2 linked regions of the Homo sapiens genome follow. The protein of the gene in region 2 purifies or fractionates together with the protein of the main gene of each other region. This does not show direct contact. Each region holds a gene or a part of one and is shown on either strand. Other genes may lie near its edges.

What was found. Proteins that work in one complex are often made in the same cells at the same time.
Region 1: the proteins of FBXO8 (region 2) and NFX1 purify together in Homo sapiens (affinity purification with mass spectrometry, with the first as the bait; one large-scale study listed by BioGRID). This does not show direct contact.

What each region holds. Positions count from the first base shown.
Region 1 is NC_000009.12:33,296,967-33,300,616, reverse strand, and holds part of NFX1 (transcriptional repressor NF-X1), read right to left. Parts: intron 1-3,650. UniProt on the Homo sapiens protein: Binds to the X-box motif of MHC class II genes and represses their expression. May play an important role in regulating the duration of an inflammatory response by limiting the period in which MHC class II molecules are induced by interferon-gamma.
Region 2 is NC_000004.12:174,236,112-174,238,771, forward strand, and holds the end of FBXO8 (F-box only protein 8), read right to left. Parts: intron 1,489-2,660; coding exon 1,301-1,488; 3' UTR 547-1,300; downstream 1-546. UniProt on the Homo sapiens protein: May promote guanine-nucleotide exchange on an ARF. Promotes the activation of ARF through replacement of GDP with GTP.

The sequences.
Region 1 (3,650 bases), on a different chromosome or scaffold from region 2:
TCCAGATTTTTTTCCTCAAACACAATTGCAGCAAAGTCTTTCTAGATTTCAATACAGCCAGATACTCTCAAAACTGAGTGTGAGTGTGTGTATATGCTTTTTTGAGTACATACTTTTAGCACTGCATTTATTTCATAATATTATTGTTATTTGCTTTCAGGTCTAAATAAGTTAAAAGAATAAAATTAACCTTAAATACAACATTGCAAGCACATTACATATTATTATTTAGTCCTCTCAAAAAGGCTGTAACAGGTTGGACACGGTGGCTTACACCTGTAATACCAGCACTTTGGGAGGCCAAGGCGGGCAGATCATGAGGTCGGGAGATCAAGACCATCCTGGCCAACATGGTGAAACCCCATCTCTACTAAGAATACAAAAATTAGCTGGGCGTGGTGGAGTGTGGCTGTAATCCCAGTAGTAATCCAAGGAGGATGAGGCAGGAGAATCTCTTGAACCCGGGGGCGGAGGTTGCAGTGAGCCGAGATTGCACCACTGCACTCCAGAGTGAGACTCCGTCTCAAAAAAAAAAAAAAAAAAAAAAAAAATGCTATAACATAGGTACCATTTTACAGATGAAGAAACTGGCTTCATGTAGTTAGATCATTTATCCAAGGTCACACAACTAGAAATTTAAAAGTCAAAATTCAAACTTGTCAAACTATCTGACTCAAAAGCGCACACTGTAATATTCCATAATATTGGCTCTCCTAAGATTTACTTTCTGATTGTTCAGTTTAATGTCAAAAGAAATAGAGAACACCCTGAGACTGAAAGCTCAGGAGAAGGGAGAGTTTTGTCTACCTTGCTGAGTGTAGTATTTCCAGTGTCTGGCATATACTAGGTGCTCCATTAAATATTTGTTAAATTCATGGATAAAGGAATAAATGAGTGATATTTAGTCTGTTCCACAACCTCTTTCTGTGAAAGTTACAGGCGTCACCAAAGTTTAGGCTCGAGTGCAGTGGCATGATCGTGGCTCACTGCATCTTCAAACTCCTGGGCCCAAGCGATCCTCCCACCTCAGCATCCTGAGTAGCTGGGACCACAAGCGTGTGCCACTATACCTGGCTGATTTTTTTGTTAGTTTTTGTAGAGATGGGGTCTACCTCTGTTGCCCAGGATGGTCTTGAACTCCTGGGCTCAGGTGATCCTCTTGACTCGGTTTCCCAAAGTACTGGGATTACAGAAATTTAACCAAATTAAACAAAAATCTTCCCTGAATAAGAAGTAAATAAAACAAGAGCAGAAACATCTTTTCCAAAAAGGAAAGATGAAGAAACTGTCAGAGATGGTAGGAGACTCAGGAGACATGACTAAATGCAACGTGGTATCCTGGATTGGGTCCTCAAACAGAAAAAGGACATTGGCAGAAAAACTGGTGAAATCTGAATAACATCTGTAGTTTAGTTAATATGATTATACCAGTGCTAATTTCTTAGTTTTAACAAAGGCAGTCTGGTTATGTAAGACGTTAACATTAGAGGAAGTTGGGTGAAAGATATATGGGAATTCTTTGAACTATCTTTGCAACTTTTCTATAAATCTGAAATTATTCCAAACTGAAACATTTTACAGACAAACACCTTTTTCTCTACTAGGCTTTGACACTTCAGTAAATGCCAATTCCATTCTTTTAAGTTGCTCAGGCATAAAATCTTCCTTCCAAATACATCCAAAATCTATCCAATTGTTACCTTTTCCACACTATTACTCCAGTCTAAGTCTCCATCATCTCCTACCTGAACAACTGCAATAGCCTCCTAACTTGTCCTGTTGCCTTCTTAGAGCCTATTCTCCACACAGCAGCTTAATAATATTTTTTTTTTTGAGACAGGTTCTTATTCTGTCACCCAGGCTAGAGTGCAGTGGCACAACCACTACTTACTGCAGCCTTGACCCACTGGGCTCAAGCGATCCTCCTAGTTCAACCTCTTGAGTAGCTGGGACTATAGGCATGTGCCACCACGTCCAGCTAATTTTTATTTTTTTGCCTTTTGCAGAGATGGGGTCTCATTAAGTTGTCCAGGCAGGTCTTGAACTCCTGGGCTTAAGCAATCCTTCTGCCTTGGCCTTCCAAAGTGCTGGGATTACAGATGTGAGCCACCACATCCAGACCCTAAGTGATTATTTTAGAATGTAAGTTCATGACATCCCTCTTCCCAGGACCTTCCAGCAGCCTCTCATCTTACTCAGAACCAAATCCAAGGGACTCACATGATCCAGCCCTTGCTATTTCTCTGACCACCTTTCCTGCCCCTATCTTCATTGCCTATAATACCCCTCCCCACATCTAAATTTGCTCCTCCCTCTGCCTAGAATGCTCTTTCTCAAGCTAGCCACATGGTGCATTTCTGTACTTCATTCTTGTCTCTGTTCAAATGTCTCCTTATCAAAGAGGTCAACCTATGTAAAATAGCACTCTTGTCACTCTGTCTTCTTAACCTTCTTAATATTTCTTTTTAGTCCTTATCACCACCTGACATATTAAATATCTAAGTGCTTTCTGCCTGTCTTCCCTACCAGAATGTAAATTCCATCAGCATTCCCTGTACCTAGAACAGTGCTTGGTATATAGTATTTATGCAACAAATATGAATGAAGTGTTCTCAAAAATGATATGAATAATGTGAGAATGTTAAGGCCCCAAGAGATTTGTTAAATAGAATTCTAAGATGGTCTTCCAGATTCCCACCTCCCTGGTATGCATACCCTATATAATCTCCTCCCCTTGAGTATGGGTGGGCCTGACTTAATCAAGTAAGCCATTTTAAAAGAGTTGAAAATCAAACAGAAGTCAGAGAGATCTGAAGTGGCAGCAGCTGCTTTCCCGCAGGCCTCAAAGAAGCAAACTATCATGTTGTGTACAGAGTCATGTGGCAGGGAAACACAGGTGGCCTCTAGGAGCTGAGAGAGACACCCCTGGCCAACAGCCAGCAAGAAAACAGGAACCTCAGTCCTACATCTGTAAGGAACTGAATCCTACCAACAACCAGTGACTGAAAGAGAACCCTGAGCCTCAGATGAGATCACATGCCTAGCCAAATTTGGAGACACTGAGCAGAGAACCCAGCTAACCAGGACCCATTCATCTGACCCACAGAAACAGTGGCATAGTAAATGTGTGTTATCATAAGCCACTACATTGTGATAATTCACTATAAAGCAAGAGGTAATTATTAACCAGCCTTAAGGATTCAGTAACAACTCTGGTATAACATTGCTTTGCTTCACATATACATTGAGGTTCCAAGAATAATCCTGATAAAGCAAGAAACTAGAACTATAGGCTGGTGTAAAAACAGGCCCTGGGTAGATGGTGGCTTCAAGGGTTGGGCTGTATCTCACATTAAACTGGAGAGGGATTAAGATAGTGAAGGTCCAGGAGGAAGAGCTAGCAGAATAAAACTATTCAGCTTGATGAAATATACACTTAGGGCAAAATGATAGATGTCTTCGAATACTGCAAAAAGCTGATTTGCAGTAAGGAGAGGGGGAGCTGTGAGAAGACAGACTAGTTACTATGCTGCTCCGGAGGATAAAACTTGAACCAAAGGATAGGAAGGAAAGGAAAGAAGCTTTCAGTTCAATATAAGGATGAACTTTTTAATGGTCAGAACTGAGTACCTACTATGTTTCAAGAGCTG
Region 2 (2,660 bases):
TTGAAAAATCTGTAGTACAACATTCCAGTTGTAATATTGACAACCACTTTTGACTAAGGGTCAGATCTGGAAGGAAGCCAGGATTCAATACCTCTAGTAAGGAGTTTTTACCTCCCTCAACTCCCTCCTCTAAACTAGTAGCTCAACCCATCACATACTATTTCATTCCTAAGGTTATGCTTTTTACTTGGAGGTCACTTTTAACTTACCATATAACTACACTGTTCTCTATCATTCTAATGCTGCATATTTTAACTATTAAATAATTGTTAATTAAGATATACTTCATATAGTTGCTCTCCATTCAGCAGATTTTTTCTTCTCAGTACCCAGTTATGTATTATCTGTGAGAGCAGGGCCCATGTCTAGTACCTCGCACAATGTTAACACATGTAAAGCCCTGGATAGACATTCACTGAACCAATGAGTAAAGAGTGTTTACTGTTCTTCACAATATGTCTTTCTCAATGGACTCTGAACGGGGATCATCAAGATTACAAAAATAGTAAAGTTTGCATAATCACACCACATATAAGCAAGCAAACATTTACCAGAGTTCTAATAATATTTTATTTTATTCCTATGAATGTAAATCATAAATTTTGATGTTTTAAAAATCCTAAATGGTTTAAAGGACTTACCGAGACTTGATTAACCCAGTTTTTAAAATAAAAAATCAAATTATAAATTTATATTATAAAAATAACTGCCAGTTTTGCATAGTAATATAGTAACAAATCAACACTCTTCAAAGTTTAAAGGAAAAGGAAGCTGGTATTGGTTTCTGTCTGAAGTCAGATCTAACTTTTACGAAGACAATAGTTTCAGATCAGAATCAAATAAATTTCAGAACTCAGTTTGAGAGAAAAGGAAAAACTTTAGTTAAAATCTTTACAATAAAATAATTATGACTATAAATCTCTTTAGTTAAATATGTACACATTACATGGTATTTGTATAAAGAATGGAAATGGATAAAGTTTTTCAGGCAAATCTAATGCACAAATACACCATCTTTTAGAGTATAATGTCAGTTTATCATTCGTTAACAGCTGTGTTAGACAGTGGCTCTGCTTTGTGCAAAACGTGATAAACAAAATTAGGAAAAATTCTGCAAAATTATTTAGTTCCCCAAGGAAATTACTAAAATAGAAAATGGCAAAAGAAAAAAAGGTTGCACACTGAAGCTTGATTGTATACTCAGGCTACAATGACCAGCACTGATGTAACCCCCATATCTGCTAAGTCCTTGGGTAGCTTTAGTCTGAAGTAAAAACTGAAGTCCTAGCAATTGTGCTTTTTATGCAGCCACATGGCCAATAAGGTAGATATTGTCATAAAGATGCCCTACAAAATCTTCACTAATATTTTGAGCAGCGCGACGGGTATTTCGAATAAATTCCCTTTTTGACATTTTATTCTTCACATGAGGGCTAGTGAGGTCAATGGAAAGTAGAATCAAAGAGTAGCACAGTACATAGACAGCATCTGGAAAGAAAAAGAAACAGTTCAAATTATTAGTTGGTTTACAAAATATGATTCCAATGGCATTATATAAGGCAAAAATGTTCATAATTTCAAGATATCAAGATTAGCTCATAAATACAGAGTGACCAATCCATCCCAGTTTGTCTAGACTCTTCCCAGTTTTGCACTGAAAGTCCTGTCATCCTGGGAAACTCAATCCTGAGCAAACCAGGATGGTTATCATCCTATCTTAATACTAACTAAGCATGCATTTCCTTCATTTCAAAAGAACTTTAGAACAGTTTAGGAGTGTATAGTAAAAATTCATTCTAGATTTAAAAAATTTAGAATTGGCTTTATTTTCGTCTTTGCTTTCAAATGTGATATTTCTATTCAAACATCCATAAAATACATTTGTATTTATCTCCTCTTTCTAAAAAAAAATTTATATAGAATGCTTTCATAAAAACCTATTTTAATTTGAGAGCATCTTTAATGACAAGAAAACATGAATCTGGTACTAGAAAATAAAATGTAAATAACTCAAAAGATTATTAATATTCTCATTTAAGATGTTATAAAGGCCTGTGGAACTTACATATTAATTTTGAAAGCAAATCTTTAGGGAAAAGACTGCTACACCTGAGCACCATGCAACAAGATTTTATATATGCCTAGGGTAATATTTGATGTTTAATATTAAAATAGTAACAATCGTCATAATAGTTCTACTACTATAGTGCTGATATTTCGGAATCCTGCAGTCTTAAGAAAGCCAAGTTGAACATTATGTCTTGTAAAGCATGCTCAACAAATTTCACACGACAGGAACAGTTTTGTAATTTCTGTTTAATCAGATAAGCACAATAAAATTTTTGATATGAAAAGATAAGCTATATGAATTGAAACAATATGTAGAAGATTCAGGCTATATCATAAGCATACAAACATACACATATAGATAGAAGTACACACAAACAGACATATATAACAACTTTATATATATACAAATGTCTATATGTCTATATGTGTATATAGACATAGACACAGTCTATGTGTATGTCTATATGTGTATATAGACATAGACATTTGTATACATATAAATTTGTAATATATATATTTATATATAAATTTGTAGGTAATATATAAAAAATATAAATGGCTATATATACATAGCCATGTATATATATATA